Linked DNA regions of Homo sapiens: all the other regions are linked to region 4. Evidence: fine-mapped expression QTL. A gene starts in region 4. Each other region holds a variant in brackets. All regions are shown on one strand. Distances are between the middles of the regions.

Evidence for each region. PIP is the estimated chance that this variant, and not a neighbour inherited with it, causes the effect. A credible set is the group of variants that fine-mapping cannot tell apart.
Region 1: its variant is the best candidate, but not a certain one, in a credible set for the expression of RIPK2 in neutrophils (CEDAR, PIP 0.60).
Region 2: its variant is the best candidate, but not a certain one, in a credible set for the expression of RIPK2 in whole blood (TOPMed, PIP 0.52).
Region 3: its variant is the best candidate, but not a certain one, in a credible set for the expression of RIPK2 in whole blood (TOPMed, PIP 0.90).
Region 5: its variant is the best candidate, but not a certain one, in a credible set for the expression of RIPK2 in whole blood (INTERVAL, PIP 0.70).

What each region holds. Positions count from the first base shown.
Region 1 is chr8:89,832,816-89,839,399 of GRCh38, reverse strand. No RefSeq gene overlaps it. Among named protein-coding and RNA genes, the nearest start is that of OSGIN2, 66 kb to the left of the region's middle. RefSeq lists an enhancer at 2,153-2,252. The variant C/GACACAC (reference allele first, on the strand shown) is at 2,820.
Region 2 is chr8:89,825,200-89,831,783 of GRCh38, reverse strand. No RefSeq gene overlaps it. Among named protein-coding and RNA genes, the nearest start is that of RIPK2, 71 kb to the right of the region's middle. RefSeq lists an enhancer at 5,399-5,528. The variant G/A (reference allele first, on the strand shown) is at 3,016.
Region 3 is chr8:89,794,078-89,800,661 of GRCh38, reverse strand. No RefSeq gene overlaps it. Among named protein-coding and RNA genes, the nearest start is that of RIPK2, 40 kb to the right of the region's middle. The variant G/A (reference allele first, on the strand shown) is at 2,768.
Region 4 is chr8:89,754,152-89,760,735 of GRCh38, reverse strand. It overlaps RIPK2 (receptor interacting serine/threonine kinase 2), which reads right to left and starts at 2,920. Exons shown (of 11, transcript NM_003821.6): 1 at 2,503-2,920. The coding sequence starts at 2,675. PARAIL (palmitic acid regulated anti-inflammatory lncRNA) reads left to right here and starts at 3,025. Exons shown (of 5, transcript NR_125822.1): 1 at 3,025-3,691. RefSeq lists enhancers at 1,077-1,166, 2,445-2,514 and a silencer at 3,055-3,174.
Region 5 is chr8:90,002,861-90,008,642 of GRCh38, reverse strand. All of the region lies in intron 1 of DECR1 (2,4-dienoyl-CoA reductase 1), which reads right to left. Among named protein-coding and RNA genes, the nearest start is that of DECR1, 4.3 kb to the right of the region's middle. RefSeq lists enhancers at 2,498-2,557, 2,718-3,027. The variant T/C (reference allele first, on the strand shown) is at 2,657.

The DNA of each region.
Region 1 (6,584 bases), 79 kb before region 4:
AAATTCCTCTAATTAAAATTTCATATGCTTTCTATAATATATATATTATATATATATGCAGTGGAATATTATTCAATCATAATAAGTATTAAAACTTTTTACAAAAGTATTGATAGTACAGCATGTATGAATCTCAGAAACATTATGTTAAGTGAGAGAAGCTAGACACAAAAGGTCAGACATTGTATGATTCTATTTATATGAAATATCCAGAGTAGGTAAATCCTTAGAGCTAGAACATAGAATAGTGGTTGCCAGACACTAGGGGGAGGGAGGAATGGAGACCAACTGTTTAATGGTACCAGGTTTCCAGCTGGGGTGATGAAATGCTTCCGAAACTAGATGGATGTGCTGGTTGCACAACACTGTGAATATGCTAATAGCCACTGAATTGTTCACTTCAAAGTGTAAATTAATTTTATGTTATGTGAATTCCACCTCAATTAAAAAACAGTATATAGAGCATAAACCTATTTTTTGGAAAATATTTAGACCCACTTTTAATTAGAATAGTTTTACAAGTAACTTGATAGTTCTTAATAATAAAACACTGAAGGCTGGGTGCGGTGGCTCATGCCTGTAATCCCAGAACTGGGAGGCCAAGGCAGGCGGATCACCTGAGGTCAGGAGTTCAAGACCAGCCTGACCAACATGGAGAACCCCTGTCTCTACTAAAAATACAAAATTAGCCGGGTGTGGTGGCGCATGCCTGTAATCCCAGCTACTCAGGAGGCTGAGGCAGGAGAATCACTTGAACCTGGAAGGCGGAAGTTACGGTGAGCCGAGATCGCACCATTGCACTCCAGCCTGAGCAACAAGAGCGAAACTCCATCTCAAAATAAATAAATAAATAAATAAATAATAAAACACTGATTTTAAAATCACATGACTTTGTAGGGTATCTGTATATAAATCCTGAAATTCTCTGTCTGCTATAGATAAAGTCCTGTGTGTTTTATAGCTGGTTAATGTGATGCATAAAACAGCACTGTGAAGCTTTATGTCTAACCAGGACTAAATACATATAGGTTATGAATAGTTTTCGAATTTGTTTTAAATACAGTTCTGCTTGGTAACAAGTTAACTGTCCTCCTAACATGAAATGAATAGATTTTTAATGGAAATAAGAGAAACAGCTATCTTGATTTCTTGACCCTTTCACAATAAGCTACAATACATTATATAAGGTTTATTTTAACAATACACAGCTTAAGAGTTGTCTAGCAAGCACAACCCACAGATATTTGAATCTGATACTTTTTACACCTGCAGAAGGTTTATCTATGAAAAGCCTGCAATGATGTGCAGCAAAATGTTCACAGTGCTTATTTTTTCTGCACTTATCTGTAGTGAGTTTATTTTGTGATTATCTGTACCTTTTAACTTTTCAACAATGAGTATGTGTTACTTGAACAAAGATACACTTTTTATAATGTTGTCCATGCCTCCATATTTAACCTGCTATTCTTTCTTTGCAATCTCAGATATAGTCTTACTCTTGAACTTTATTGCCAAGTACAAGGACAATGGCTTTCTCTTTGCTTCCTGGTGACACTTTTAGGCAAATATCCTCTTTTCATCCTTCAAAAACCTGCTCTCAAGCCATGTCACTCCCAGGCATCTCAGCCAACCGTGAATGTCCTTGGGGTAAAGAAGAGCAGTATACAGATGCCAGGATACCCCACCACATTTCTGCTTTCATTGACACGCTCAACCTCAATCAACTGTATCTGCTCTTTATTCCCACACCTCATGGTGGAGCTTTCTGCCTCTTCCTGATCCAATAGGGCAATCAATCTGATGCCTTCATCTCTGGAATTCTTGTTTATGGGTTTATGAATTCTTGTGAAATTCAATATCCCTTAATCTCTAAAGGTAGAGATTTTAGGTAACTCCAGAGGGTACGTAAGGCCTTGTGAATTAAGGAAAATTGCCCAAGGTCACATCACTGGACAGTCATGTCTAGCTAGAATCCAGACTCCAATTCTAGGGAGTCTGGTTTATTTCTGTAAACCATAATGCCACAGATGTGAAGCCTAATTCAAGAACATCTCCATGGCAAACTCTTGTTTTAGTTAGAGAAATAGGAAAACATGACAAAGAATGTGTCATCGACTTCTATTTAAACGTTCAAGTTCCTCATCTTCAAGGATTTGCTGGATGACAGCTAACAAACAGTCAGATTGGATGATTCACAAAGACCGTTTCCAGTGTTTAAAAAAAATATGCTGGGGACTTTCATAGAAATTTCTACTTTTCTGAAAGCATTTTATTTCTTCATCTTTCTCTTCCTGCTCATATCCACATTCTTGTTTTCTTCCTGCTGACTGCACATAAACAGGATGTGTGGAAAGCAAGTCTAAAGAGGTAACTAAGTGAAAGGTTCACCGTTGATGTAAATCAAGAGTAGATCAGTGAAGTGGAAACCAGCAGAACTGCTTTACTGTTAGTATTCAGAGACACTAGCAAAAGAAGCTAATGTTGGTTCATTGTGAGCTAATAAAAGCAATAACCACTGGAAGATAGAGCTGAACTTTCATTTACTTACTTTACTTTTACTATGGTAATATTACTTAATAACTTTCCTTTAATGAACTCATTAAGATCATAAGCGAGTGCTTTTAATATTAAGTATGCACCTCCCCCCCACCCAAATTATACTGGTTGAATTTTCATGTTAAAATAAAGCAAAAATAAATATTAATATAAAATATTTAATCAAATATTTTAAAAATTTCAGTAGTAAAGTAAACCAACTCCAGCAGAGAAAGGGTTATCACACACACACACACACACACACACACACACACACACACACA[C/GACACAC]ACACCCTATCTGATGAGTTCTCTTTGCCAATAAAACAAACCAACAAACAAAACTGATCAAGAAACAAGACTATAGCTGGGCATGGTGGCTCATGCTTGTAATCCCAGCCCTTCAGGAGGCTGAGGTGGGCGGATCACCTGAGCCTGAACCCAGGAGGCCAAGGCTGCTGTGAGCTGAGATGGTGCCATTGCACCCCAGCCTGGGCGACAGAGCGAGAACAAAACAAAACAAAAGAAACAAGGCTATAGACAAGTCTGAGCTATTTTAGAAAATGGCACATGGTTGTTAATATCCAGTGAGTTCTACTTAGATTTTTCTTCTGTTTTTTCTTGTTCAACACCCAAATCTGTTAGTCAAGAGTAGTAAAGCCACTAAGTGTATTTTGTTGTTGAAGCTACAACATACAAGAAAAAAGAAAACATAGAAAGCAGCATTACTGAAACACAATTTTAGGAAACATTAATTCTCAGTATTGTGAACTAACTCCAAGAGGTATTCCGACGGACATTACCCCCATCATACTTTAGGATGTGGAGGACCTTTAATTAAAAACCCCAAGGAAAAAAATTTAATTATTTCCTTTTTGGAAAAAATCCATAGTTCTATCAGCCTCATTGTTCAAAAATTCTTTCATTTCCTCTCTTTCATGGTGAAATTCCCTCCTTTGTCTTTGGAAGTGAATTTGGTTATTACCTTTTGTAAATATTTTAGATTATCTGTAGAAAAAGGGAGAACCATGAATAGAGTCACATTCTTGAGCTATGATTTGAGATACTTATTTGCCCTTAAGAAACATTAAATTTCTTCCTTGTTTTAGTAAGAATGCTTTATTTCCTTTAATGCCCAGGGGGTATGTTGTCACATTTTCACTTTGAAGATAGAAATTTCCCACACTTTCCCATACTGAATTAATATTGACATTCATTAACAAGACTAGCAACAAGTGTCAAAATATAAATGATTACAGCCCCGTGAGCAGGAAGGTAGAAATTACTTACTGTTTTTCCTTGGGGTGGTAATTAGCTACTGTTTGCCGTCTGTAAAATCACAAGTAAAATGTGGATTATGTTTCATGAGATGAAAAGAACATTTCAAACATAATATCTTGAGTTAGTTCTCACAACACCTCTGTTAGAAAGTATGAACATCACCATTTTTACTGACAAAGTCATCCACAGAGAGGATAACCAAGTAGAAAGAGGATTCAAACTCCTCATCTTGACTCCAAACTGTAAGATTTTTCTACAGTGCCTTCTTCCTTCCCTCCCTTTCAAAGTTTTGTTTCCTCTCTTTTAACTATTCTTACTTCCAATTCAAAGGCAAAGCATTTGTATAAATACATTCGCAGACTTTTCTTATCTATAATGGGTGATTTCTAGTCCCCTCTTTTGAGTATTCCCAAAGCTGAGGGAGAAAGGATGCTTCGAATTAGCTTTTGCTGTCAGTTACACAGATTTTTCTTTCCTCATTAACCTGAAGGAATCCCATAAACATAATTTAAGAACGGTAAAAATGGTTTTTGACTTTCTTTATTTTCATGTCTCCTTTCTCCTCCTCATTCTGTATTCTGGCGTTGGAGAAGAGCTAGAGAGAACATCCTTAAAGATGCACTTTTTTTTTTTCAGTATGCCCTATTTTTTTTGATAAAATTGTGGTGAAAAACTCATAATATAAATTTATACTCTTAACCATTTTTAAGTGCACTATTACAATAGTGTTAACTGTATCCACATTATTGGGTAACAGATCTCTAGAACTTTTTCATCTTGCAAAACCGAAATCCTTTGCCCATCAAATAACAACTCCCATTTCACCCTCCCCTTAGCTCCTGGAAACCACCATTCTACTTTCTGTTTCCGTGGTTTCCCCTACTCTACATAGCTCTACATAAGTGGAATTATACAGTATTTGTTCCTCTGTGACTGGCTTATTTTACTAAGCATAATGTCTTCAAGGTTCATCGATGTTGTAGCATATAACAAAATTTTCTTCTTTTTTAAAAGGCTAAATATGTATATGACACGTTTCCTTTATCCATTCATTTATAAACGGAATTTCAGGCTACTTCCACATCTTGGCTCTTGTGAATAATGATGCATTGAATATAGGTGTACAAATACCTCTTTGCGCTCTTGCTTTATATTCTTTTGTATTTATACCCAGAAGTGGGATGCTACCTCACATGGTAATTCTGTCTTTAGTTTTTTGAGGAATCATGCTGTTTTCAAGAGCAGCTACACCATTTTACATTTCTACCAGCGGTACACAAAGACTCAAATGTCTCCTCATCCTCACCAATACTTGTTATTTTCTGGTTTGTTGATAGTGGCCATCCTAATGGGTATGAGGTGACATCTCATTGTGGTTTTGATTTGTGTTTTACTCTAATGATTAGTGGGTATGCCGTTTTAAAAAGAAATTAAAATTCTTTTCATAATTGAGTACATATTATATTCTAGGAACTGTGCTTTGTGTGTTGCATGCATGCAATAGCTTGTTACTTTTAACAAACATTCTATGGCCTAAGTAGTATTATCCTCACTTTGTACCAGAGGAAACTGAGAATCAGAGTTTAAGTGATCTTTCTAAGGACAGAGAGCTGCTAAATGGTAAGGCCAGAATTCAAAATCCGGTCTGATACCGAAGCTCATATTTCTAACTACTGAGCTATTCTCTCTTGGCCTTTTGCTTTGCCCATTAATTCCTTAATGTGTTGTGTAGGTGGCTAACACACTGTTCTTCAAAAGGAAACAGAAAGTAACATTAATTAAGTGTCTGTTTTGTGCTGGACACATTGCTAAATGCCTTCAGATGTGTATGTGTACATGTGCGAAGTGAAGGAGGAAAGTCCTTTCATTTTACACATTGAAGCATAAATCCATTTGCATGGTTACTGTTGTAAGTCAAGTAGTGCAATGAAAGGAAAATTAAGCTTAGATTTCTTACCATATAGTCTTTGTAAACTTGAAGGGCTTTTTTTACTGGTAAATACAATCCTAAGATATATGTATAAATTCCAGACAGAGAAATTCTAATTCCAATTAAGGAGTTGATTGTACCGGTGTAAAGAGGGAATCTTATCAGGAAGAGGATACACAACCAAACACACACACACACACACACACACACACACACACACACACACACAGAGGAAGAAGAGGCTTAGCTAGGGATACAAGGAAGCAAAATAAATGATTACATAAATGTTGGAGCTACCACATGGCCTATTTTCTCTGACACTGCTCTTTATTCCACTATTTTTCCAGTGTAAGATGTTTACAGCTTCTTCCGTTATGGTCACCTTATTCTACTCCACTGCATGGCCCCATCTTGTTATGTAGGTGATATATAGCAATGGGTCCAGATTTATAAGTTTAGTTTTGCTTGTGTAGCAACAAATTCAGAGCTGATTGTGACTTTTAAGATCGCCCTAAGCCCCAGGAAAATTGATCCCGTGAAAATACAACTCTCAACTGTCTTTGGGAACCTCCTAATACTGGAATCTTTAGCCCAACCTTCGCTTGATCATGAAAAGCATCAAGTGAATGGGAAACTAAAATTATTATTTATTTATTATCATTTTTTGAGATGGGGTCTCATTGTGTTACCCAGGCTGGGCTCAAACTCCTGGGCTAAAGCGATCCTCCCAGCTCAGCCTGCTGAGTGACTGAGACTATAGGTGGATGCACTGTGCCCACTAAAATTACTTTTAACTGTGCCTTCCAACTAAGAAACACATCTACTCCCACCCCCAATTATCAGGA
Region 2 (6,584 bases), 71 kb before region 4:
GAAAACAGAGCCTTAGTAAGGATAAGGAACATGCCCAAAGTCACATAGTTCCTAAGTAACTAAATGTGATTTGGATCAGGATTGTCATATTCCAAAAATCTGTTTTTGACCCAACATGCTATACTACTAATGTTATTTTGTATTCTCTTATTTTCTCTTTCTTCTTTTTAAGAGACGAGGTGTTGCTCTGTCACTTGGGCTGGAGCGCAGTTGAATGATTATAGCTCTCACCGCAGACTCAAAAACTCCTGGGCTCAATCAATTTTTTTTTTTTTTTGAGACGGAGTCTCTCTCTCTCACCCAGGCTGGAGTGCAGTGGCGCGATCTATCTTGGCTCACTGCAAGCTCCGCCTCCCAGGTTCACACCATTCTCCTGCTTCAGCCTCCCAAGTAGCTGGGATTACAGGCATCCTCCACTATGCCTAGATAATTTCACATCTTTAGTAGAGACAGGGTTTCACCATGTTGGCCAGGCTGGTCTCGAACTCCTGACCTCAGGTGATCTGCCCGCCTTGGCCTCCCAAAGTGCTGGGATTACAGGCGTAAGCCACTGCACCTGGCCTCAATCGCTTCTTCTGCCTCAGCCTCACAAACAGCTGGGATCCTAGGCGCAGGCTACCATGTCAGGCTCTGCTATTTTCATTTGATATGTAATCATAAATATTTTTCTATGTTTTTTGGGATATCATTTTTATAAGCCACGGAATTCTCCTCCAAGTTGATGCATAGTTTCTTTTGTTATTGTTTGTTTTTATTCTTACAAATAAGAGTATAGTTAACAAGTTAACATTGCCACACTTATCTTTTCAATTCTGTTAAATTTTATCCTTACGATAAATTCCTAGGTATGTATGTTTGATAAAGAGTAGGTTTTTAAAAAGTTGTCTTTGTTTTTCATAGGTATTTTTTTTTTCTTTTTGAGATGGAGTCCCACTCTGTCACCCAGGCTGGAATGCAGTGACGCGATCTCAGCTCACTGCAACCTCTGCCTCCCAGGTTCAAGTGATTCTCCTGCCTCAGCCTCTCGAGTAGCTGGGATTACAGGTGGCAGCACAATGCCCAGCTAATATTTGTGTTTTTTTTAGCAGAGACGGTGTTTCCCCATGTTGGCCAGTCTGGTCTCAAACTTCTGAAACCAGGTGACTCACCTGCCTCAGCCTCCCAAAGTGCTGGGATTACAGGCGTGAGCCACCATGCCTGGCCTCTTTCTCATAGGTATTTCTTTTATTTAAAAAATTAATAAGACGTGCAGGACTCGGTATGAACAAAGAAAAAAAGGAAATTTTAAAAATAAAAAACCATACAAATAATGCATAAATAAATGCTAGTTGAGAAATTCTCAAGCCATATGGTGAGGCAATTTCAGACAGTATATATTTTACCTACTTTGATTGGATTTGGTCTTTCAGGCTATATTTTCCTTAAGCACATGAATCCTATAATTGAGAGCCTGGCATAGAATCAGTAGCTAAAAGAATAATAGATAATGAGTTGAAAGATGTCTTCCAACAGAAGAGACAGCATAGCTACCATACTTTGCCAAAACAATAAATTGATTTATGGTGTTATAGAGATGCAATTTTAAATTCACTGGTATAAATTTCCAGGTTTGTATACTCACAATGTATACAGTCATGCTTACTATGTTAAGAATCTTTTTAAAGAAACTTTTATAATGTAGTTCCTCATGGATTATTATTTATATCTTCATCAATCCGCCTTTCAGTTTCCTACTCTGAGCTTACTCTTACCCAGGAAAGCTCTTTAAACTAATCTCACTTCTCGTGATCATGAACATCCCTCAGCTTACTCACTCTCAAGGTCATTATTTATTCATTTAGCCAATAGATAATTGCCAAGTCTTCTAGATGCTGAAGCTAGAGCAGTGTCTAAGAGACAAATAAGATCTCTGTTTCTGTGGAGTATTGTTGGAGGAGGCAGATAACACAAAGAAATGGGCATTTTAAGATTGTAATAAATACTATGAGAGTAAAATGGAGATGGGGCCTAAGAGTGGCTCACACCTGTAATCCCAGCACTTTGGGAGGCCGAGGTGGGTGGATCACGAGGTCAAGAGATTGAGACTATCCTGGTTAACATGGTGAAACCCATCTCTACTAAAATTACAAAAAATTAGCTGGGCGTGGTGGTGAGTGCCTGCAATCCTAGTTACTTGGGAGGCTGAGGTACGAGAATCACTTGAACCTAGGAGGTGGAGGTTGAAGTGAGCCAAGATGGTGCCATTGCACTCCAGCCTGGGTGGCAAGAGTGAAACTCCATCTCAAAAAAAAAAAAAAAAAAGGAAAAAAAAACAACAACGAAAAACAGGGAGATGAGACTGAGATTGTCTAAGGCAGGGCGTTGGGGGAAGAGGGTTACTCTCATATGGTGATAATGAAAGGCTTCTGAAAGCATCTGAGCTAAGACCTAAATGATGAGGAATGAGCATTCCAGGTGGAGGGAGAAAATCCCCTGGGGAAGCCAAAGGTTTGTCCTACAAAACAGAAAAAATGCCAGAGGGAGTAAGTGCATGTGGCAGGAGGTGAGCTTGTCGAAATTTTTTGGGAACTGATCATATTGGACAGTGTGGGTCATGCTAAGAACCCACAATAGTTATTATGCTTGCAAGGGGAGCACACTTTGGAGGTTGTTGAATAGGAGAGTAAAATGATGTGATTTACTTTTTAAAAAGATGATCTGGCTGCTGTATGTCTTGTCCAAGATCAATCTCCACCCCATCTTGTGATAACATCCAGTGTCTAGCACATAGTGAGTGCCGAATGACTGAGCACAAATTATCCATTCCATTTCCAATATCTTCTGTATAATCTCTCCTTAACTGTCCTTTCCTTCCCACTTCTCTGACCACAGGAAAAATCCTTATTCATTAAGATTCAGCTAAAGCATTACTGTTCTGGGAAGCCTTTCTGATCTGCAGAGCTGAGTGAAATACCCGCCTCTATGCAGTTTTTGGACATTGTGCTCGCTTCTGTTATAATACTTAACATAATTATC[G/A]GTTAGGTTGTCTTCCCTCCCTATAGTGCTTAGCAAGGCCTATTTCTTATTCTTACTTAATCTTCAGTGACTATGTTAGATGATCTGCACATAGTCTGTTCACCTAAACTGCCCTTAACTGTTGATGTATTTGTTAATCACTTGGTATTACCCAACTTTGAAACTGACTCTAGAGAGGGTGACCTCTCTAGAAAACCTTTCTAATCTCAAGCCAGCTCTGTACTCCCTTCACAATATTGTAGCTTCACCCTAGATAATTCTTATTTTGCATTAAAATCTTGGCTTCCAGCTGGGCACAGTGGCTCATGACTGTAATCCCAGCACTTTGGGAGGCTGAGGTGGGTGGATCACGTGAGGCCAGGAGTTTGAGACCAGCCTGGCCAACATGGCAAGACCTTGTCTCTACTAAAAATACAAAAATTAGTGGGTGTGTTGGTGCACATCTATAATCCCAACTATTCGGGAGGGTGAGGCACAAGAATCACTTGAACCTGGAACAATGAGATTGCAGTGAGATGAGATTGTGCCACTGCACTTCAGCCTGAGCAACAGAATGAGAGCAACTCATTTCATCCAAAGTGGACATAAACCTGTTTTTATTATTAGGCATAAATTATTTGGGGACAGAATTACATCTAACTTATTTCTGAAATCCTGGTCTCTACTACCGTGTCTGGCACGTTGCAAACACAAAACAGGTGGTAATTATTATGAGTCTGAGATTCCCAAAGCCATGATCCACTGATGTTTTCCATTAAGACAAGTTACATCAGTAGAAACAATATTAAAATCCTCCCTTTATAGTATTTCCATTGAATAAATATTTTTAATCAAAATTTATTTTTATCTTTGCAATGATTCATAGAAATTAACCTTTCTATGTAAAAAACTAGATAGGGCAGAAATTTTAGTCATATATTAGAAAAAAGTAATCATCTTTTTGCAGTAGTTAAGAGCAATCTATCTTTTATTTAGTTGGTAAAAATGTTCAAATGTAAATGCATAGAGATAAATTTTCCTAGCTGTGGTAGATAACTCATCCCTCAGACTTGGAAGTGCAAGAAATGCCAAATAGACTGAAATGAAGATTAAGGTAAGTCTTTGGTTTTTATGCTTGTTTTCACACATGCTGGCAGCTATAATGGAAAATTAGGAATTCAGCCACATGAATGTCTGCTCTGTCTCCTTTTGTGTCTGGAAGAGAGGCAGCAGAATGGCCCTCTGGGTGTGGAAGAGGATCAGCTTCCCTATGCTGTTTTCCTTTTCCGTCATTTTGAAATCCATAAAGCATCAGCAGCAAGAACAACAACAGCAAAACACAAGTATAACCTGAAAGCATAGTGTATAGTCAGGGGAAGAAACGACTTTCAATCACAGTTATTTCATGAAGAAAAACTAATGTTTATATGACTATACTGTAATTAAGATTACAAACTCAAAAACTAATGGAGCTGGGTGCGGTGGCTCACGCTTGTAATCCCAGCACTTTGGGAGATCGAGGCTGGTGGATCACTTGAGGTCAGGAGTTGAAGACCAGCCTGGCCAACATAGTGAAACCCCATCTCTAAATTAGCCGGGCATGGTGGCATGCACCTGTAGCCCCGCCTACTCAGGAGGCTGAGGCAGGAGAATAGCTTGAGCCCAGGAGTTCAAGACCAGACTTGTCAACATGGTAAAAATCCCCTCTCTACCAAAAATACAAAAATTAGCTGGTCTCATAATCCAGTCAATAAATAAATAAATAAATAGATTTAAAAAAAACTAGCAAGAACTCAGTAAGGACAGATGTGACACTGCCTCCTGATTGTCCCATCAAAGGGGAAGGAAGGTGTGCGGAGGACCTGAGGGAGGAATGTGCTTCTTCAGACCCTATGTCCTGCTTGTTTCTGGTCAGTCTCTGGCCCAGGATCTTAGGTCTCTCATAGATTTAAGAAGCTTTAAGATGCACTTCCCTTAACTTAAATATGGGTAGAGATCTGTGAATATCCTCAGAAATATGAATATAGAACATGAGTGGGACAGGGGAGGAATTCTTGCCAATAACAGTTTCTGTAAGATACACATCAGATTTACTTACATTGAAAAGAAGAGCAGGGCCTGGTGTGAATCATTCCACTTGGATCACGCTTAAACTGCAGGGGAGGTGCCCTTCCCTTGAGCCCACATTAAAGAGCCTGGGAAATGGGTGTGAAGAATGAGAGGCTTTCGCTATTATCAGCTGGGTGCTGTGCAAACACAGCAACTGGTATTTCTATGTAAGTACACATGGAAAGAAAGGGAGAGAAATTTAGATGGCATATATAAGAGACATTTTTTTCTTTTTTCTTTTCTGTTTTTTTTTTGCTCATTACTCTTGAAAAATCAAAGACCACACAGAAACAAGCCAGTAGCACTGGAAATCCCCTTGTACTTGTCATTTTGTTTAGTCACTTATCAGGAGTCAGGGGAACAGTAGGCTGGAGGCAGACAGGACCAAGTACTTCCAGATTTAATGCAACCACTAGACAAGACAATCAAGAGGAAATGAAAAACTGGAGCCATTTCGTTTACTGGATAGCAGCTGACCTCACTCATCACTGGCAAGAAAAGGCATAGTGTCGCGGAAATGCCATAGTAGCTGGAGTCAGAAGACGTGAGATTGGCTGGCCATGGTAGCTCACACTTGGAATCCCAGCACTGTGGGTGGTTGAGGCCAGGAGTTCTAGGCTGTAGTCATCTATGATCACATCACTGCACCAAAAAAAAAAAAAAAAGGTCTGAGATTGAGCCTTGAGCTCTCCCACTCACTGGCATGTAGTCTTGGATAAATCCCTCTTACATCACTCTGAATGATCTGGTTTACCCATCTCAAAGATAAGGACAATTATACCATGAGCAGCAAAAATTTCATAGGGTTTGTTGTAGTAAATGAAATAAGATTAGCAAAGCTAATTTGTTATTATAATTTCAATAAAAAATAGACTCAAATGATTGTGGGAACTGCTCCATCTTTAATATTCACCATTTCAAACTAGAAAGATTTCCCCTAAATCTTCTTCCAAACATGTCCATACTCTAATCTTATTTCTTTTTGTAATTGGTTTGCTGAGCAGCGTTCTAATTGCCCATCATTTTTCTAGCCAGCTTTAGGGCAGCTGAGATGGCCAAACAGGGAACTGCAGTGTGTGACGGGGGGGATTTTAAGAACATTAGAGCAGAGCGTGTGTATGTGTATTTATTTTTCACAGCTTGTTTTGCTATGCTCATCAAGTGGCTCCTGTCTCTTTGTATTCGTCTACTGAGTATTTTTCCACATAAGTGATTTGCTGTGTAATTATCCTGGCCAACAACTACGTACAGTATGTCATGTTACTTAGCTGCTGCAAGCAAATCCTTTCCCACATCCTGGAAAAGGCTGACTCTTTAAAAAAAATCATTATGTGTATTTAAGATATGGAACATGATGTTATAAGATGCACATATACAGTAAAAAGGTCACTATAGTGGAACAAAGGAACATATCCATCGTCTCACACAGTTACTCCTTTATCCCCCTATGGCAAGAGTAGCTATAATCTACTCATTTAGAA
Region 3 (6,584 bases), 40 kb before region 4:
CAATCTCTGCCTCCTGAGTTCAAACAATTCTCTTGCCTCAGCCACCCAAGTAGCTGGGATTGCCTGATTAACTTTTTTTTTTTTTTTTGTATTTTTAGTAGAGATGGGGTTTACCATGTTGGCCAGGCTGGTCTCAAACTCCTGGTCTCAAGTGATTAGCCTACCACAGCCTCCCAAAGTGTTGGGACTACAGGCGTGAGCCACCATGCCTGACTCAGAATCTAGTTTAAACAGAGTTGATTCAAGTGCAAAGTTTGAAGCCGGGCTTCTTGGGAAGCACAGATTCTAAAGAATGGAAGTCAGTGTTCCAAAGTATAGAAGTTTTCACTCATATTCACAAAGTTTAGGGAAGTTTAGCAGAATATCAACACCTTCCTATGTTAGGCTTAATGTATAGTTACAATGATCTGATTTGTTGAGGTGGTATTTTTCTTTCAGGAAAGGCACGTCAAGCTGAAACAGTCAAACGGATCAGAATCAAGTTATAAAGAGTTTATTAAAGTGAAAAGCTGGGAATGGCTATTTAAAAGACACAGACTCCAGAGAAATGGGGTCAGGGCTCTGAAGTTAAAGGTTCTTATATAGACAGAAAATAGAGTAGGATTATATATAACATTTTCTATACAAAGCTTGTTTTTGAGTTATAAACATTTAATTAGTTATAGTTCATTTTGTTTTCCATACAGCTTGTTTTCATGTCCTTTCCAATTTAAAAGAGTATTTTTAATATTCCATCTGAAGACAATGTGATAACCATAAAGCCTTTTTGTGAGAAAGATAAGAGGAAGTTAATCTATAATAAAGATCAACAGGGAAGAGGGAAGGGGTCTTCCCTGGTGCCCTTTAGTAATATATAACATTTTAGAAAACAATGTAGGTGAGGAAGGCTAATCTATAATCAGAGCAAGAAAGGTTACAGCTGCCTGTCACATGACTCAGTCCCCATAACCTCACATTTCTTTAAGGTTCAAAGTAATTTAGAGTTCCAACAGCTTGGATTTCCAATTACCTATTTTCAGAGGTATATTTAACATTTCACACTGAGAATCTAATAGTTATGGGGTCTTTTGCACCATCTGGTCTGAGTTAGGTATTGAACAATAAAGGAGGCAGTTAATCTATAACAAAGATCAGTAATTGCAAGTGGAGAAAGGTCTGGTCTCTAGTCTCTTCTAGTCATTTACAGAACAAGAACAATGAGCAAGAGAGTTAATCTATAATCTAATTGCAAACATGCTTCATGACTCAGTCTCCAGAGCTTAATTTCCCCCTTGGCATGATAAATTTAGAGGGTTCTGAGATTTTTTATTTTATATTATCAATAGTAGTTCATTAATTTTAACAAATACACTATACTCATGGAAGATGTCAATAGTAGGGGGAACTGGGTGCAGAGTATATGGGAACTTTCTACACTAGCTTTTCAATCTTTCAAGAAATCATGAACTATTCTAAAAAATTAAGTATATTTTTAAAAATGAAGTATCTTAGTGTCCTAGGACTATCATTAACATATTACCGTAAACTTGGTGGCCTAAAATAATAGAAATTTATTCTCTCACAGTTCAGGAGGTCTGTAGTCCAAAATCAAGGTGTTGGCAGGGCCACACGCCCTCTGAAGGCTAGAGGGGTAAAAGTCCTTTGCCTTTTCCTTTTCCAGCTTTTGGTGATTCCAGGCATTCTTTGGCATGTGGCTGTGCCATTCCTATCTCTGCCTCTGCCTTCCATGGCCTTTTCTTTTGTCTGTGTCTTCTCTCCTTTTTTTCTTTTCCTTTTTTTTGAGACAGTGTCTCACTCTGTTGCCCAGACTGGAGTGCAGTGGTGTGATCTCAACTCACTGCAGCCTCTGCCTCTTGGGTTCAAGAAATTCTTCTGCCTCAGCCTCCTGGGTAGCTGAGACTACAGGTGCCCGCTGCCACGCCTGGCTAATTTTTGTATTTTTAGTAGAGATGGGATTTCTCCGTGTTGGCCAGGCTGGTCTCAAACTCCTGGCCTCAAGTGACCTGCCTGCATTGGCCTCCCAAAGTGCTGGGATTACAGGCGTGAGCCACCATGCCCAGCCCTCTTCTTATAAGGACACTTGTCACTGGATTTACGGCACACCCAGTTAATCCAGGATGGTCTCATCTTGAGATCTTTAATTTAATGACATTTGTAAAAACCCACTTTCCAAATAGGTCACACTCACAGGTTCTGGGGATTAGGACTTCAGCAGATCATTTTGGGGGCAACCAGTCAATACACAACCTAAAGCAATAATAGTAATAAACAAGACCATACCAGTCAATATATCAGGCATGATTTTGCCTATAACACTGAGGAACAAGACAGATTTATTTATGTTTCTAAGTTAAATTGAATGTGGCCCAGGCTCTAACCTGAAAGGGTTGGTGGGAAGTCTGAATCTCCGCCTTTTTTCAGGGTCTTGGCAAGTGGAAAGGTGAGAATGCTCAAGCTCTGAGGGCCACGCCTTTAACCTGCAGTATTCATTGTGTTTCTACTTGCTTTTTCCTCTACATGCTAGTGTTGTGGGCCACTGGTCCTTCCTGACATGGACAAGCCCAATCTGCCACTATTCAGTTTCCTTGCCCTTTGCCCCCTATCCTAGCACCTCTGGAGTACTGTGTCTGATTAGTGCTGTCAAAGTCAAATAAAATATAAAGATGAATCTCTGAAATTAAAATATTTTATTTGGCAAGAAAGAATTGCAACTAGGGGCATACACACAGACCGGGTTGTCTTTGGTATATCTAAAGAACAAAGAGAA[G/A]GTTAGAGCTTTTATAAAAAGGAGAAACATTACATACCACTACTCTAGAAAGTTCATTGGCTCAAGTAAGGTTTTGGGGAGCTAGCAAGCTTTTTGGTGAGTGATGGTGGTGGGTAAAACTAGTCTTAGAGGTGCAGTAGATTGTTTCAGTAGCCTTTAGATAAAACTGGTTTCAGGTTATAGCAGGCAGTCTCAGCAGCCAAGCTTGCAGAGAATTACATTCTTGGAGCAATGGTACGTGGTCTGATTGCGCTGTTTTAGTTGGGTGTGACAAGAATGACCCAGTTTGTAAGGTCAACTTTTGCTGTGGCTACAGTCTCAAGCAAACTTTTCAGACTACCGTCAGGTAAGTCATTTCACAATCAGAGCTGCAATAGGACATTCGTGGGCCCTAGGTGTTACTGGAAAGGTGTCCTTATCCAGACCCCAAGAGAGGTTCTTGAACTTTGTGCAAGAAAAAAATTCAGGGTGAGTCCATAAAGTGAAAGCAAGTTTATTAAGAAGGTAAAGGAATAAAAAAATGGCTACTGTATAGACAGAGCAGTGGCATGGGCTGCTCAACTGAGTATACTTATAGTTATTTCTTGGTTATATGCTAAATAAGAAGTGGATTATTCATGAGTTTTCCAGGAAAGGGGTGGGCAATTCCCAGAACTGAGGATTCCTCTCCCTTTTAGACCATATAAGCTAACTTCCCTAGGTTGCCATGGCATTTGTAAACTGTCATGGCCCTGGTGGGAGTATCTCTTAGCAATCTAATGCATTATAATTATATTATAATTAGCATATAATGAGCAGTGAAGATGAACAGAGGTCACTTTTGTCACCATCTTGGTTTTGGCTGACTTCTTTACCACATCCTGTTTTATCAGTAGGGTTTTTATGACCTGTATCTTGTGCCAACCTTCTGTCTCATCCTGACTAAGAATGCCTAACCTCCTGGGAATGTAGCCCAGTAGTTTTCAGCCTTATTTTACTCAGCCCCTATTCAAAATGGAGTTGCTCTGGTTCAAACACCTCTGACATAGGCACTTATGCTTTTGTGGCTCTGTCCTCTATAAAAGATATTAAAATTATTTTTTACAATTGCATTATTATAAAGATATATGTAATCTAAACTGTTCATTGTTATATATTCATTTTTTTCTTCTAATTTAAAAACAATTAAAATTAAAACATTGTCTTGGGACCAGGCTCCCAGTACTAGCTTCCATATTCCTTAGAATGAATTCAGTTAGATTAATGAGCTTAAAATTCTAAAACTATTAACTCTCTTCTGGAGTCGAAATTAATTCGGAATTTTGAGTCCTTTTAACTTTGTCGGGAGGCCTATGCAAAATATATCTCATGTGTTTGTGATCAGGCTGTGCCCAAAACACTAAAGAGTTAATTTTTCAAAAAATTTTTTTCTTGCCCCTTTAGACTTTGTACCATTCCACTAAGGGGCACTGGTGGAAACAAAGGTGATGGGCATCCTGCCAGTCCTAAGCATCTCTTAGTATGATGAGGAGTGCATCAGTCACAGTGAGAAGGCAAAAGCTCAGCAACATGTGTTTAGTGAGGGCAGGAGACTTCAAACTAGCAATGAAAAGTACTTGCAGTTATTTTGTTGGTAGCTTCCCTGTTTGCTCAGGGTTGCTAAATACATCCAAAAAGGAATCAACCAAAGATATGGAAGCTAGAGGCTTGGACTGGTTATCTACCCTAACAAACTCCCAAGTTAGGAGTCCTAGTGAGAAAAAGGACAGTTTTCAAGAATGGATGGGTTCTGGGTTATTATTATGAGAATCATAGTTTAAATGTTTCTAGATCATTAGTTGCTTCTATTTTTTAACAATTTCTCCTAGTTTTGAAGATAACAAGTCTCTCTAAGGGTATTATGTAAGTATTTTAAAATTATCTTCTGTCTATTCTTTAATTTTCTTAGTATTTTTTTTTCAGATGTGGAATTTGGAGTTTCTTTATTTGGTTGGCATCCTTAAATCATGGGATTTTGGTGGACAGAGAGTGTCTTGCACCAGATTTTATAAGCAGAGCCTGAGCAATATCCATTTAATATTTTAAGAGAAGAGGCATGCCCCATTTTAATAACTGAATGTACTTGTAGCAAAAAAAGTGGATTTATATTGAAACACACATTTTCGATGAAAACACAAGCCAATTCTTTAAAAAACTGCCCAGATATAGAGACCATGTAGGCTAAATTTGTAGATTCCATATTTTTTATGTTAAAAAAGGAAACTCTTTAAAATATTCCAATTATATTCATTAGTGATTAGATGAATGATTGTAGTTAAATAGTGATGAGCTTTGTCAAATTGAAGGAAAGAAGGCTTGTGGTAATTTGCAAACTTCATGCTTGAATGGCTCAGCACAATCGACATTTTAATTAGTAACTTGGATGAAACTATAAAAAGTAGGTTTGTCAAATTTGTGGATGACAAGCTGGAAGATTCCAGATTTAGGGATAAAAAATGTATTGAATAACTGGAACTAGGGATGAATTAAAAAAAAAATAGAGATAGGCCAGTGCAGTGGCTTATGCCTCTAATCCCAGCACTTTGCACTTTGGGAGGCCGAGGAGGGAGGATCATGAGGTCAAGAGATTGAGACCATCCTGGCCAACATGGTGAAACCCCATCTCTACTAAAAATACAAAAATTAGCTGGGTGTGTTGGCACGTGTCTGTAATCCCAGCTACTCGGGAGGCTGAGGCAGGAGAATCGCTTGAACCCAGGAGGCCGAAGTTGCAGTGAGCCGAGATCGTGCCACTGCACTCCAGCCTGGCGACAGCGAGACTCCGTCTCAAAAAAAAAAAAAAAAAAAAAAAGAGAGATAAAGGCAAATTGTTATATATGGGCCTAACAATCCAATTTACCTATTTGAAAAGTGGAGAAATAAGGCAAAACAACACAGGTGTACAGATGAAGAATTTGTTAGCTGGTAGTTAAATATTAATTTGACAATGACATGTGACTACTATAAAACGGTGCTTTAGCATTTTATTTAAGGATAAGGGAGCAGATATCCCAACTGTGATGGCAAGACCTGAGTAGGAGCACCATGTTTAGTTGTGGCTACCATACTTTGAGAGGAATATAGACCATGCCACTTAAATAACCACTGAAGTAAGTAGGAATTATTCTGAGGCAGAGAAAAAAAAAATCACCAGAAATAAAAGAGCTCCTTGGAAATATATAAGATGCTGTCATAGAAGAGGGATTAGATTTACCCCATAAAATATTCCAAGGTTTGTAATCAGGATGAGTTGATATATACTACAAGGAAATCAATTTTTATTTTTATTTTTTATTGTTTTATTTTTTTTTTTAGACAGAGTCTTGCTCTGTCGCCCAGGCTGGATTGCAGTGGTGTGATCTCGGCTCACTGCAACCTCTGCCTCCCGGGTTCAAGCGATTCTCCTGCCTCAGCCTCCTGAGTAGCTGGGACTACAGACGCACGCCACCATACCCGGCTAATTTTTGTATTTTTAGTAGAGACGGGGTTTCACCATGTTGGCCAGGATGGTCTCGATCTCCTGACCTCATGATCTGCCTGCCTCAGCCTCCCAAAGTGCTGGGATTACAGGCTTGAGCCACCGCGCGTGGCCGGAAATCAATTTTTAAATCAGTGTATGAAAGTATGGATAGTACTGTCTGGAGATGAAATAAATTGCCTGACAAGGTAATAAGCTCCCCCTTTATCTGTGGAAGTGTTTACTCATGAGATAAACGTCTATTAACATCTTTCCAGTAGAGGATTTTGAAGCATCAGATGCACACTTGTTCCTTTCAACCCATTCATTAATTACATGACA
Region 4 (6,584 bases):
CTAAACATAGTTTCATTAGCTCCACTTTATAAATGAGGGCACTAAGGCTCAGAAAAATTAATACTTTTCTAATGGTCACACTAATAAGTGGCAGGGTTGGCGTCAGATTTGAATTGCAATCATGGGACATTAAAGCCTGCATTCTTTCTACCCTATTGCTTGATCAAAGAATATAGTAGGAAAGTTCTTGAAGGTAGATTTTTGGCAAGATTGAGTGAGTGGGAAATTTTTTTTAAAGCCAAAAGATTTTAAAAATTGATTTTTACATTTTGAAAATAAAGGTGTAAAGTACAGCTTCCATAGTCACATCACCAAAATTAACTCAAAAATTTAATCAGAAAAGTTATGTCATCTACAGGGTATTTGAACAACCAATTGGACTCATTACTCATAAGGGGTGGGAAGATTGTTGGGGAAGGTCCACTCATCGGATAGAAGTCAGGTTATGGAGACTGATTCACCAGTCATTAAAATAAGAGCATGTAACATTGCATAAACTTATTTTTTTTCAGGTCATCCCAAAGAACAATGCAAACATTGTTCTCCATAGTCCGAGAAACACATGTATTTATTATTCGTATTTTATAAGTGAGGAAAGAGACACCAGTGAGTCAACTGCATAGCCTCATCTAATGCTCAGACTACATAAATACTGCAATGATAAGATCTTAAGTAACAAATTGGAGAAAAGAATGTGATGCAGTAAATGCCAGAGTGTTTCGCTGGTCTTATGGCTTCCTCGAAGACAGAATTAATTTCCTACCCAATTCAGTGAAGAATTTTAGACTATGAAAATTGTTCATGAGTATGGGAAGGAAACTCCCTCTTCACTTCTTGGTCCCCAAACTGCACAAAGCTTAGATAAATCAAAATCCTGAGAAGCAGCACCCAAAGTGGGAGGATCAATTGGCTTTTCAATACCTAATGGGTCCATCAGTGCTACATTTCCATATAGTGTTTGCATAACTGGTTCTAACATATATCCACCCTCTCTAACCAACCACCACCCTTAAAAGTTGACTACAGACACATATACACACTTGTCCAGCACTTGCTCCACAGAATATAAGGCCTGGAGTAAACAGACACCACACCTTGTATATCACTGAATCTGGATTATGATAGACAAGAAGTGGAAACAAGCTCTAGAAGTGTCCCAAATCTCCTGTGCCATTTAGGCCATCGAAGCCTGACAGTGAGAGACAATGAAGAAAAGCCACAGGCAGGTGAAAATCCAGTAACTTTGGCAGGGCGGAAGCTGAGGAATTTATCTGATGCTGGATACTCACAGCTTCTGGCCAATCAGGCATCGGGGATGACGTATTTTCACATTAGATATAGGAGGAGGAGAAGAGAATGTTGTAATCATGGATGTTAACTCACTAAGAACTGAATGCTGGGCCTAGTTAAATCCCTGTAGGAAGTAAAATACACAAGACTAGTGACCCATTGACTAATACACAGTCACAGGTCTATGGCACGCGGTTGTAATGTTCTTCTGAAAACAGAAACTAATGCTAACCTTCCCTTAAAACCTGTACAAACCAATAAGTGAAAGCCATTTACAATTTCTGGCCATTTAACAGTCTTTTGGTTCAATTTATTGTGGCAAAAATAGCACACATTTCCTCTACTTAATCTTCCCTGTGAGAGAAACTGAGACTGGGAGAAACTGAACTGCTAGTATTGAGTTTGATATAAAACGTTCCTGACAACACATAATAAACCAAAACCAAAATAAAAACAATAAGAAGCAAAACATCCTTGATTCTAAAGCAGTGCGGTCCAATAAACATATAATGTGAACACCACCACATACAATTTAAAATTTTCTCGTGGCCACATAAAGTAAAAAGAAACACATAAAATGAATTTTAATCTTATATTTAACCCAAGATATCAAAAATGTTATTTCAGCATATAATCAATAAACAAATAATAAAATATTATAAGTTCTTTTTTTAATAAATACTAAGCATTCGAACTCTGGTATTTTACACTTAGGTCACACTTCAATTCGGACGGGCACATTTCAAGTGCTCAATAGCCACCTGTGGCTAAGAGCTACCTACTGGACAGTGCAGCCCTACAGCCCAATTTCAAAAATAAGGAAAAAACAAAGCAAACAAAACCCACACCCACTATATATAAACACACATCAATTTCAGTAAACCCAGCGTTTAGAGTTAGGCAGTGATTGCTGATTTTTGGAGTACGGAGCCAGAACGCCTAGGAGTAAGAGGGAAGGAGAGAAAGGGTAATGGAGAGATGTGTGGAGGAATGCAACTGCTGCATCTCCAGAGAAGCCTGTGCTCCCTACGGTGCCAGAGCTTGAAGGGTGGGTGCTCCCTATCTCCCAAGCTTGAAGGGCTCCCTAGAGGTGACGAGGTGAGGCCGGCCCCAAGCGGTCACTGCCATTTGGGCTCTAGAGCCCGCTTGTCAGGGGGCTTGAGGGGATGCAGGAGTTGAGGGCTCTTCCAGGGAACCCCAGTGACTGCCTACCTGTCGAGCAGCGGAGTGTGGATGTGCAGGTGCTTCACGGCCACCTGGACGCGCCAGTCTGCGTGGCGGGCGGACGACACAGTGCCAGAGGCGCCGCGGCTCAGGTAGCGCAGGTCGGCGAGTTTGTGGTAGGGAATGGTGGGCAGGGCGCTGCAGATGGCCTCCCCGTTCATGGTCCCGGGCGCTCAGGCCGGTTCCGGGTGTGCCCCCTGCTGCGGCGGCTCCCAAGGCTCCCACGCCGCGCTCAGGCGCCCAGATACGCCCCTGCACGAGCGAGGCCGGCAAGACCCTTTTTGCCCCGCAACACTAGGTCACGAGGGCGCCCATTCCCCGGATGGCCCACGCCAGCCGCTGCTTCTCCGAACCAGAGCTGACTTCTTTTCTAGAGACTGGTGCCAACGCCGTAGCGCCGCGAAAGAGCTTCCTCTCTCGCAGCCCCGGCCCTCCCCCCGGCGCGCGCAGCGACCAGCTCCGGCCGCCCGAGCTCCTCCCTCCCCAAACTTCGCAGGTTACGTCAGCGGCGGACGGCAAGGCGGGGAGAGGGGCAGCCCGCTCGCGGCCCTCCCGCCTGGCTCTCGCCTCGGCCTGCGGCCGGGATCCTCCGCCCGGGTCGCGCAGCGGAGGCCGAGGGCTGGGACGGGCGGCTGGGAAGTGGGAAAGGGAGCTCCTTTTGTCTTCTCTTCCCATCCCCCAGGTTTGGGAAAGTTTTCCTTTTGGGAAAGCCCCTCTCTTCAGCCTGCTGGCGGGTGTCGGATTGGTTAGCGACCACCGGCCCCCGCCTCCCCCAACAGGATTCTCCTTTGGGCCACAGGTCTTCCGGAAGTTGCCAAACCCCGGTAGCGGCAGCGTCCGGCTGGGGGCTTTATTAGGGGGCACCGGGGTCTGCTTTCCGACTCCCTTCCGACTCCGCGCCTGCGCAGGAAGCGATTTGGGGAGTGTTGTGAATTCCGAGGGCTCCACACTTAAGAGGTTGTACACTCACCTGTCTACCTGGACTCCAATTTCCATATTTCCAGCCACTTGAGGACTGAGAGGTGGATGATAAACCCTGTCATAGTGGAGCAAGTTCAGGTGTTTAACCGCTGTTATGGGGGATCTGCCTTTTCTCCCTCTTCTTTCTTACTTCCATAAGTATGTATGTGCAGAGATTGAAAAATAACCTTGAGAGAGTCCATCCATCTAACTCCAGGTAAGACTGCAAATATTTCTTTCTTATAAATCTGGGAGGAATGCAGTCAGTGTTTCATGCCAACCAAAAAAGACTGCAAACGTTTTTCCATCCTTCTGCCTTGAATACCTTTCTACTTAGATGACTATTTTGTAAGACGTGAGTGCAAATGTTATATACAATACCAACTCCATACTAGATGTTTAATTAATTCTAGGGATTCAGTAATAAGGAATGACTCGAACAGATTTCTGCCTACAGACAGCTAATGCTTCTTGTATTTTTGCATTACCTGAAATGAAAGTAGCAATGTTAGATTTTACAGTAGTGGGAGGTTGTAAACAATAGTATGTTAAACATTTTTGATCATTTATAATAAAATGTTCAGCACTAAACATATGGTCTGATACTCTGTGCTTTATTGCTTAATAAGCTTTTTTTTTTCTTTTCGAGAGGGAGTCGTGCTCTGTCACCCAGGCTGGAGTGTAGTGGCGCGATCTCTGCTCTGCTCATTGCAACCTCTGCCTCCCTGGTTCAAGCAATTCTTCTGCCTCAGCCTCCCAAGTAGCTTGGATTACAGGCGCCCGCCACCACACCCAGCTAATTTTTGTATTTTTAGTAGAGACGGGGTTTCACCGTGTTGGCCAAGCTGGTCTCGAACTCCTGACCTCGTGATCCGCCCACCTTGTCCTCCCAAAGTGCTGGGATTACAGGCGTGAGCCACCGCGCCCGGCCAATAAGCTTTTTTCTTAAAAAGTACTCAGAAGACTTTTCTATCCATTCATTCTGTTAACGCGCGTCAGTGTGAAGAGACCACCAAACAGGCTTTGGGTGAGCAATAAAGCTTTTAATCATGTGGGTGTAGGCCGACTTAGTTCGAAAAAGGAGTCAGCAAAGGGAGATAGGGGTGAGGCAGTCTTTATAGGATTTGGGTAGGTAGTGGAAAATTACAGTTAAAGGGGGTTTTTCTCTTGCGGGCAGGGGTGGGGGTCACAAGGTGCTCAGTGGGGAGCTCCTGAGACTCATTGTCCAGGAGAAGGAGTGTCACAAGGTCCATTGATCAGTTAGGGAAGGGCAGGAACAAATCGCAATCGTGGAATGTCATCAGTTAAGGTAGGAACTGGCTATTTTCACTTTTGTGGTTCTTCAGTGGCTTCAGGCCATCTGGATGTATACGTGCAGGTCACAGGGTATATGATGGCTTAGCTTGGGCTCAGAGGCCTGACATGTTTATCCAGTCAATTAATTAAAAACCTGAGTCCTAGAAAAAGAGAACAAAAAATAAACAGGGAAGAAATGATCAAAATAATAATTTAAAAATTTTTGCTAGGGCAGGAGTCTTCATATTTAAAGGGCCCACCAAGTAAAAAGACCTACATTAAGGCACATACATCATTAAAAGGGTGAGAACACTAACACTAAAGGGAAGATTCTAAACGTTTTCAGAGGGCGGAAACAAAAATTAAAGAGATGGGAATTAGAATGGCATTGAATTTCTTAACAATGTTACTAAGTCATTGTTATCCTGAAATATAATGAAGTGAAATTTTTCCAATATTCTGAAGGACAGTAACTTCCAACTTAGAATTCTATAGTCAAACTTTCCGTCAAATGTAAGGGCAGAATAAAAACATTTTCACATATACAAGAATGAAATACTTTCTTTCCATGTCATTTTTTTTTTTTAAAGAAAGCTCCTAGAGAATGTGTTCAGCAAAACATGGGAGTAGCCCAAGAAAAAGAAAGACATGAGATCCAGAAAACCGGACCAGGAAATTAAGAAGGGAAACTCCAGGATGAGAGAAATATGGCAGAATTGGAGAGCAACCCATTTTCACTGAACAGGGAGATGGCAGACTTCAAGAGAAAACAGTAGTTACAGTAATTGAAATGATAGATTATCTAATTTTGAGTATTTGAGAAATTATATTGATAGATGTTTGATAGATCTAATGAACTATGGGATAAAATTGGAGAATGAATTGTAAAAAAAAATACAAGTAAAAAAAGGAGACAATTGTTAATTCCATGAAAATTACATCAGAAGGGAGACAACATTTCTCTAAACTGTTTTGTGGTGGTGAAAAATGTAGAACTTTTCAGAACTTTTGAAATGCTAATATGCATCTCTAAGAAGGAGAGAGCATGAAGCATAGAACTTCATGGAATTTATTTGTATTGTTAATTACATTACTTTTAAATTTACTTTTTAAAACCATATCACATGGTTTAAAATTTAAAACAATAAGGACTCATAATGCAATAGAAAAATTGAGAAGAGGACTTAGATACCTTGAAAAAGAGGTGAAAAGGTTCTCAACATCATTAATTATCAGGGAATCACAAATTTTATTCACATTGCAACACTACTATCCAAACAGTAGAATGAATAAAATTAAAAAGACAGAATATACCAAGTGTGAGTGAGGATTTGGAGCAACAGGAGCTCTTGTACACTGCTCATGGGAGTGTTGATTGGTTCAATCAATTTTGTAAATTGTATGTCAGTATCTATTAAAATTGTAGATATGCAGATCCTATGACCCAGTAATTCCTTGCTTCGGTATGTGGACATGTGTATGCATCTACTAGAATGTTCATAGCAGTGGTGTTTATAATAGCCTCAAACTGGAAATTACCCAGATATCCATAAATAGTAGAATAGATAAATACATTTTGGCACATTTATGCAATATAATACTAAATGGGAATGAAATTAAACAGTGTACAAATATAATGTTGGATGAAAAAAGCCAGATACAGAAGAGTACATATTGCATGAGTCCATTTGTATAAAGTACAAAAATAAATAAAACTAACTTATGCTTATAGAAATCTTCTCTCTAGTAGGGGAGAGGCATTGATTAGAAGGGAATCATGAGGTATTTAGGATGATGGTAATGTTCTATTTTTT
Region 5 (5,782 bases), 250 kb before region 4:
GCCCAACAACATGAGCTTGGACTTTTGTTCTTGATCTATTTCATCACATTTTTGCCTGTTTCATTAACAGCATATAAACAGGTCTCCTGTTTACTGAAAAGAACTGAGAGAGATTTTTCTACCTCTCTCATCTTTACCTCAATATCCCTGTTACATCTGCACTGCCTTTGTGTTCTAGAAAAATTAAGATTTAAATGTGAGCCAGAAAAAAGGAAATGGAGACTCATCAGACAGAAGTCATTAAGTGTACATGAGAGATACCGAGGGCAGTAGAAATTAAGAGAAGACAACATATTCCACACACATTTAACATGTAAATTAGCCTGAACCCAGAACCCAACCAGCCAGACCTGGCAAGTAAGGTGAGAGCTGTGGAAGGTAACTGAGTTCTAGTTTTAAGTGGCTGCATGCAGAGTGATGCTCTGACTGAAATGACTGGGTTGACATGAGAAGACCAAGTTGGAGCATTGAGGATAATGAGTTCTGCATCAGAAATGCTGCACTTGGGATGCTTCTGGAATAGTCAGGTAGAGATATCTAAGCTGCAGTAGGAAATATGGTTTTGAAGCATGAAGAATAAATTAGGGCTAAAGGTAAATGGCAACATCATTTCATCATTCCAGCAATTATGAAAGCCTACAGTTCTATCACTGCTTTTATGTTACAATGCAGTGTGAGGGTTTCCCAGACTGGAAGGGATAAAAGTGCAGTTGACCTTGTATTCTAGACTTACTTATCATTACCCTGGCACTTCAATCTCAGAATGATTCATCAACTTAGGAAGAGAAGAGCGCAGGACAGCTGAGAATGCTGATCATTTTCTACCTAGAATTTTCTGCAAAAACTAAAAGTTGCTAAACATCTATTGCATGCTTTCTACCATGGGCTGTAAGAAACTCTGGATAACTTTAAAATTCCCCCCTCTTTTGATGTCATTATCATGACCTTTGGGAGATATCTGAGATCTAGATTATTTTTTGTAATAATATAAAGTTTGCTTTGTAGTTTGGGCAGGAAGTTTGTTTGAAATTTCTTCAAATGCATCCTTAAGCTACAAGGCCAAGATTCATCCATTAACCCCACCCCCACCACCTGCCCTGCCCTGCCCCACCTTGGTGACTCCCTCTCCTCTTCACCTGATACATCCCATCCGTCTATAAGCCCCATGCCTTTTACCTCCCCAGTGTCCCTCTATATCCACCACCTGATTTCAAACCCCTATCTCACAACATTCACAAACATTGGGGGCCTATTCTGTGTCATCTTTTAACTGATCTTCCGAGGACTGCTAATGGGATCATGTTACTTCTCTTCTTAAGATCTTCTAAGGGCTCCTGGTAGCTGCAGAATATCCAGATTCCTTCGCTCCCCATAGCATATGTCTTCACGACCTAGCTCCTGTCCCTCTCTTCTGCCTCATCTCCCCTGAAATTTACACTCAGGAAAACAAAGTACTCAGGATTCCCCAAACATGAACTCTTTCCTACTTTCCTGTCTTTACACAAATTGCTCCCTATCATCACCCAACATTCATCATTGAAACCCAGCTGTGAGAGCTCTGGTGCTTTCCCTAACACTCCCAGGGAGAATTAACATTCTCTCCTCTACTTCTGTAGCTTATTTATCTATATACCACTTGAGGAGTCCCAGACCCTACTGACATTTCAGGACTGATGTCACTTACTCCTCTTCTCCCTCCAGCCCCCACTTAATGTCCTCACTCAAGAGAGTGGCACTGTCCTTAGCTCAGGGGCCAAAGACAGAAATCTGGGCTTCATCTTACCCCATACATTCAAACCAAGCCCAGTTCGTTTTAGTCCCCAGTAGCTCTAATGCTATCCTCAGTTCAGACCCTCATCACTGGTGTTTGGATGTTTGGTCTCCCTACTTCCAGTCTTACCTGATGATATCGTATTTCTGCTCACAATTTTGATGGCAACATGTCACCACTGAGCATAGCCCCATCTCTCATCCTCACCACCAACCAATCACCAAGGCCTCTGATTTTACCTCCTAAATATCACTCAACTTTGAGTGTCTCCAAACCCAATGCATGCCCTCGTTGAGGCCACCATCACCTCTCAACAGATGAGAGGATTACTCAGGGTTTAGCCATTTGTCTCCACTCCCACCCTGCAGGACAAAGTTCTAACTCTTTAACGCAGCCAACAGGCTGCTCACTAAGCTGTCTCTCACCTCCTGCCTCCCCACTCTCTGTTGATAACCTTTATGCTGGGCCTTCACATAGACTACTCTCCTGTTTAAAACATTCTTACATCTCTCCCTTTGGCTAACTCCTACTCATCTTTCAGGTCTCAGCTTTGATATATACCAAACAACAACACTCTCATAAAACTGGACATACCTCCCCCATGAGCAGGAGATGCTTCTTCCCCAGTCCTGACATCTCCCTACTGTGAGAAGTTCAGGTAGTACAACTCCAGGCTTCTTTCTGTCCCCTTAGTCAACCTGCTAAGGATGTTTGGATGTTTGTCCCTTGAAAACTCATGTTGAAATGTGATCCCCAATGTTGGAGGTGGGGTCTAATGGGAGGTGCCTGGGTTATGGTGGCAGATCCATCATGAATGTCGTAGTACCATCTTCATCCTGGCAGTGGCAAGTGAGTTTGCACTCTATTAGTTCCCACTAAAGCAGG[T/C]TGTGAAAGAACCTGGCACCTCCCAACACCCTCTCACTTCCTCTCTTGCCGGCACCTCCCAACACCCTCTCACTTCCTCTCTTGCCGGCACCTCCCAACACCCCCTCACTTCCATCTCTGCAAACTCCAGCTCCCCTTCACCTTCTGCCACAAGTGCAAGCAGCCTTAGGCCGTCACCAGATGCAGATGCCCAGTCTTGAACTTGTCCAGGCATCAGAATCATGAGTCAAACAAACCCTTTTCTTTATAAATTACCCAGCCTCAGGTATTCCTTTATAGCAACACAGACTGAGGTACAATCTGTCTGTGCAGAGACAGTTGATATGACTGGTAAATTTTGACAGGATCGTTGGGTATGAACAGTTCTCCTTGGTCTTCTTCCTTTTGGGAGCCAGCTGCCTTCAGAGGACAATGTTCTGCCCTCCTCCAGAGTTATGTAAGTCCGCCTACTTCGGGAGATCCAGCTGATAGGCCCAGCTTCCTCTCACAAACCACAATAAAAGTGATACTTTGGCTTCCATCTTTACTCATTTTTCAGACTGGAAAAAACGGATGCTATTTATTTGGGATCCCATCCAAAAGCAAGAACACCCAACCTAACATGCGGCACATCATACCATAATGCCATTGGACTCTATGCTTCTTGACAGCAGGAATCAGCTCTTCTTCTCACCTTCATATCCCTAGTAAGGTGCCTAGCAAATAGTAAATGCTCAATTTTCTACATAAATAAGAAAAGCCCACCATACCCTGTCCCCCAGCAACCTGACTGATCTCGTCTCCACACGCTTCTCTCTGTTCCCATACTTCACCAACTCCACAATACCAAACAAACCACTTGAATTTTTATAAATAAGCCACTCTTTCACTTCTTGATACATGCTATTCCTTAGGTCTATATTGCCATTGGGACCACACAAATTCCAACTCCTGATTTAACAGCAGGCTCCTGGGGCCACCTCCTCCATGAAGCTTTCCTTGCCTCCTCTAGGTATGTACAGTTTGGGTCATATATGCATTATAATACACATCTGCATCTTCACAGTCTATTGATGTCTGCTGGTGACTCACTAGACTATCATTTTTCAGATTTTTCTGACTGTGAACCATAGCAAGAAATGTGATTTATATAGCAACATACACATGTTCATAGCAACACAGTACACACGTTCATTCATGTAACAGATATTTGTTACATGTTTACTCTATGCTAAGCACTGTTCTAGGTATAAACAGTGGACAAAACAGTTGAAAATCTTTGCCTGCATAGAGCTTATATTCCAGAATTTTACACTGAATAAAGAAATACTTAGGCTTCCAGATTTAAAAAAAATAAAGAAAACACATCTAGTTGGTTTTATACTGCTCCAAGACAATATTCATCGTGAGAAAACAATGAAACAATGTTGACTAAGGGAAAATGTGACATCCAAGTAAAATTATGCCTATCCATCCTTTTACCAGAACAGATGCCTGGAATGATATACACCAAATGCTAACCCAAGTTAATTCTAGGTGGCCAGTTTGAGGTCATATCTTACTTTGTTAACTGTATTGCTGAATATTGGCCAGGAATCATTTTTCTAAAAATAGTGATTTTACTCTTGATAGTTACTATTCTTTTTTTTTTTTTTCTTTTTGAGATAGAATCTCACTTTGTTGCCCAGGCTGGAGTGCAATGGCGTGATCTTGGCTCACTGCAACCTCTGCCTCCTAGGTTCAAGTGATTCTCCTGCCTCAGCCTCCTGAGTAGCTCCTGCCTCAGCCTCCTGAGTAGCTGGGATTACAGGCACGCGCCACCACGCCCGGCTAATTTTTATATTTTCAGTAGAGACAGGGTTTCACCATGTTGATCAGGTTGGATAGTTATTACTCTTGATAAAAACAAAAGGAAAAGAAACATGGCAGTGTGCATGATAGTAATCAAAGAATGAATCAAAAAAGGAAGAATGGTAAATTTTTTTTTTAAAGTTTCACAAAATGAACAACCTTACTACATGAGATGAATTTAGATATATCCTATTCTATTCCATTTTTTTGTTTTTGAGATGGAGTCTCACTCACTCTATCGCCAGGTTGGACTACAGTGGCGCGACCTCAGCTCACTGCAACCTCTGCCTCCCAGGTTAAAGCGATTCTCCTGCCTCAGCCTCCCAAGTAGCTGGGACTACAGGCGTGTGAAACCACACCCAGTAATTTTTGTATTTTTACTAGAGACAGGGTTTCACCATGTTGGCCAGGATAGTCTTGATCTCTTGATCTAATGATCCACCCGCCTCAGCCTCCCAAAGTGCTGTTTTGCTCCACTAAATTGATTTCAAGGCCTACTCATTGGTTATTATTTGTGGCTTAAAATACATATATGAGACTATAGTACATTGAAGGCAGGAATGTCTTTCAACCACAAATTGCCAAAGAATGCCCAATACTTAATAGGTACTTAATTAATTAGTGTTTCCTCATAAACAACTGAATGACTGAATGTTTTCCTCAATAGAACTGAGAGCAACTTGAGAACAGTTGAGAGCAGGGCTCGTATTTTTTAAATTTTGAGTCCCAGGGCATAGCACAGGGCCAGACATAAAGCCAGTCCTCAATAAATATTTATTAAATTGAAATGAGGCCTATTAGCCAGCAGCACAATTTAACACAGCACTTCACAAACAGGTTTTATAACAAATTAAACATTTGCCTTGGTTCTTGGTAACAAAAATATTCAAATTAGGGGTTTTAATTATAACAACTTGTATTTGCCCACAAAAACATGATGTTCCCTGGAACAACCTCCCACATCACAGATGTAAAGACTTTTCTTCTCCCAGGAATTCAAACTTGAGGCTACATGTGCTAGGAAGGGGACAAACCACACTAACAGGTACCTCTCTTGCCTCCCAACCCTGAACCTCAAAACTTCCATATTTTTCTTCAGCAAAGGAATTTCAAAATTGTCAGATTACAATTAATTTTTAAATGAGTTCATTTTCTCCTTCTCAAACTGTATTGTCTAATGGTGTCAGAAGAGCTTGGATAAGGTCTGTATGACCTTATTGCTACAATCCTAATGATGTGTGTTAAAAAATGAAATCTCTGAAGACATCACAGAGCTGTTGTAGATTTCAAATGAGA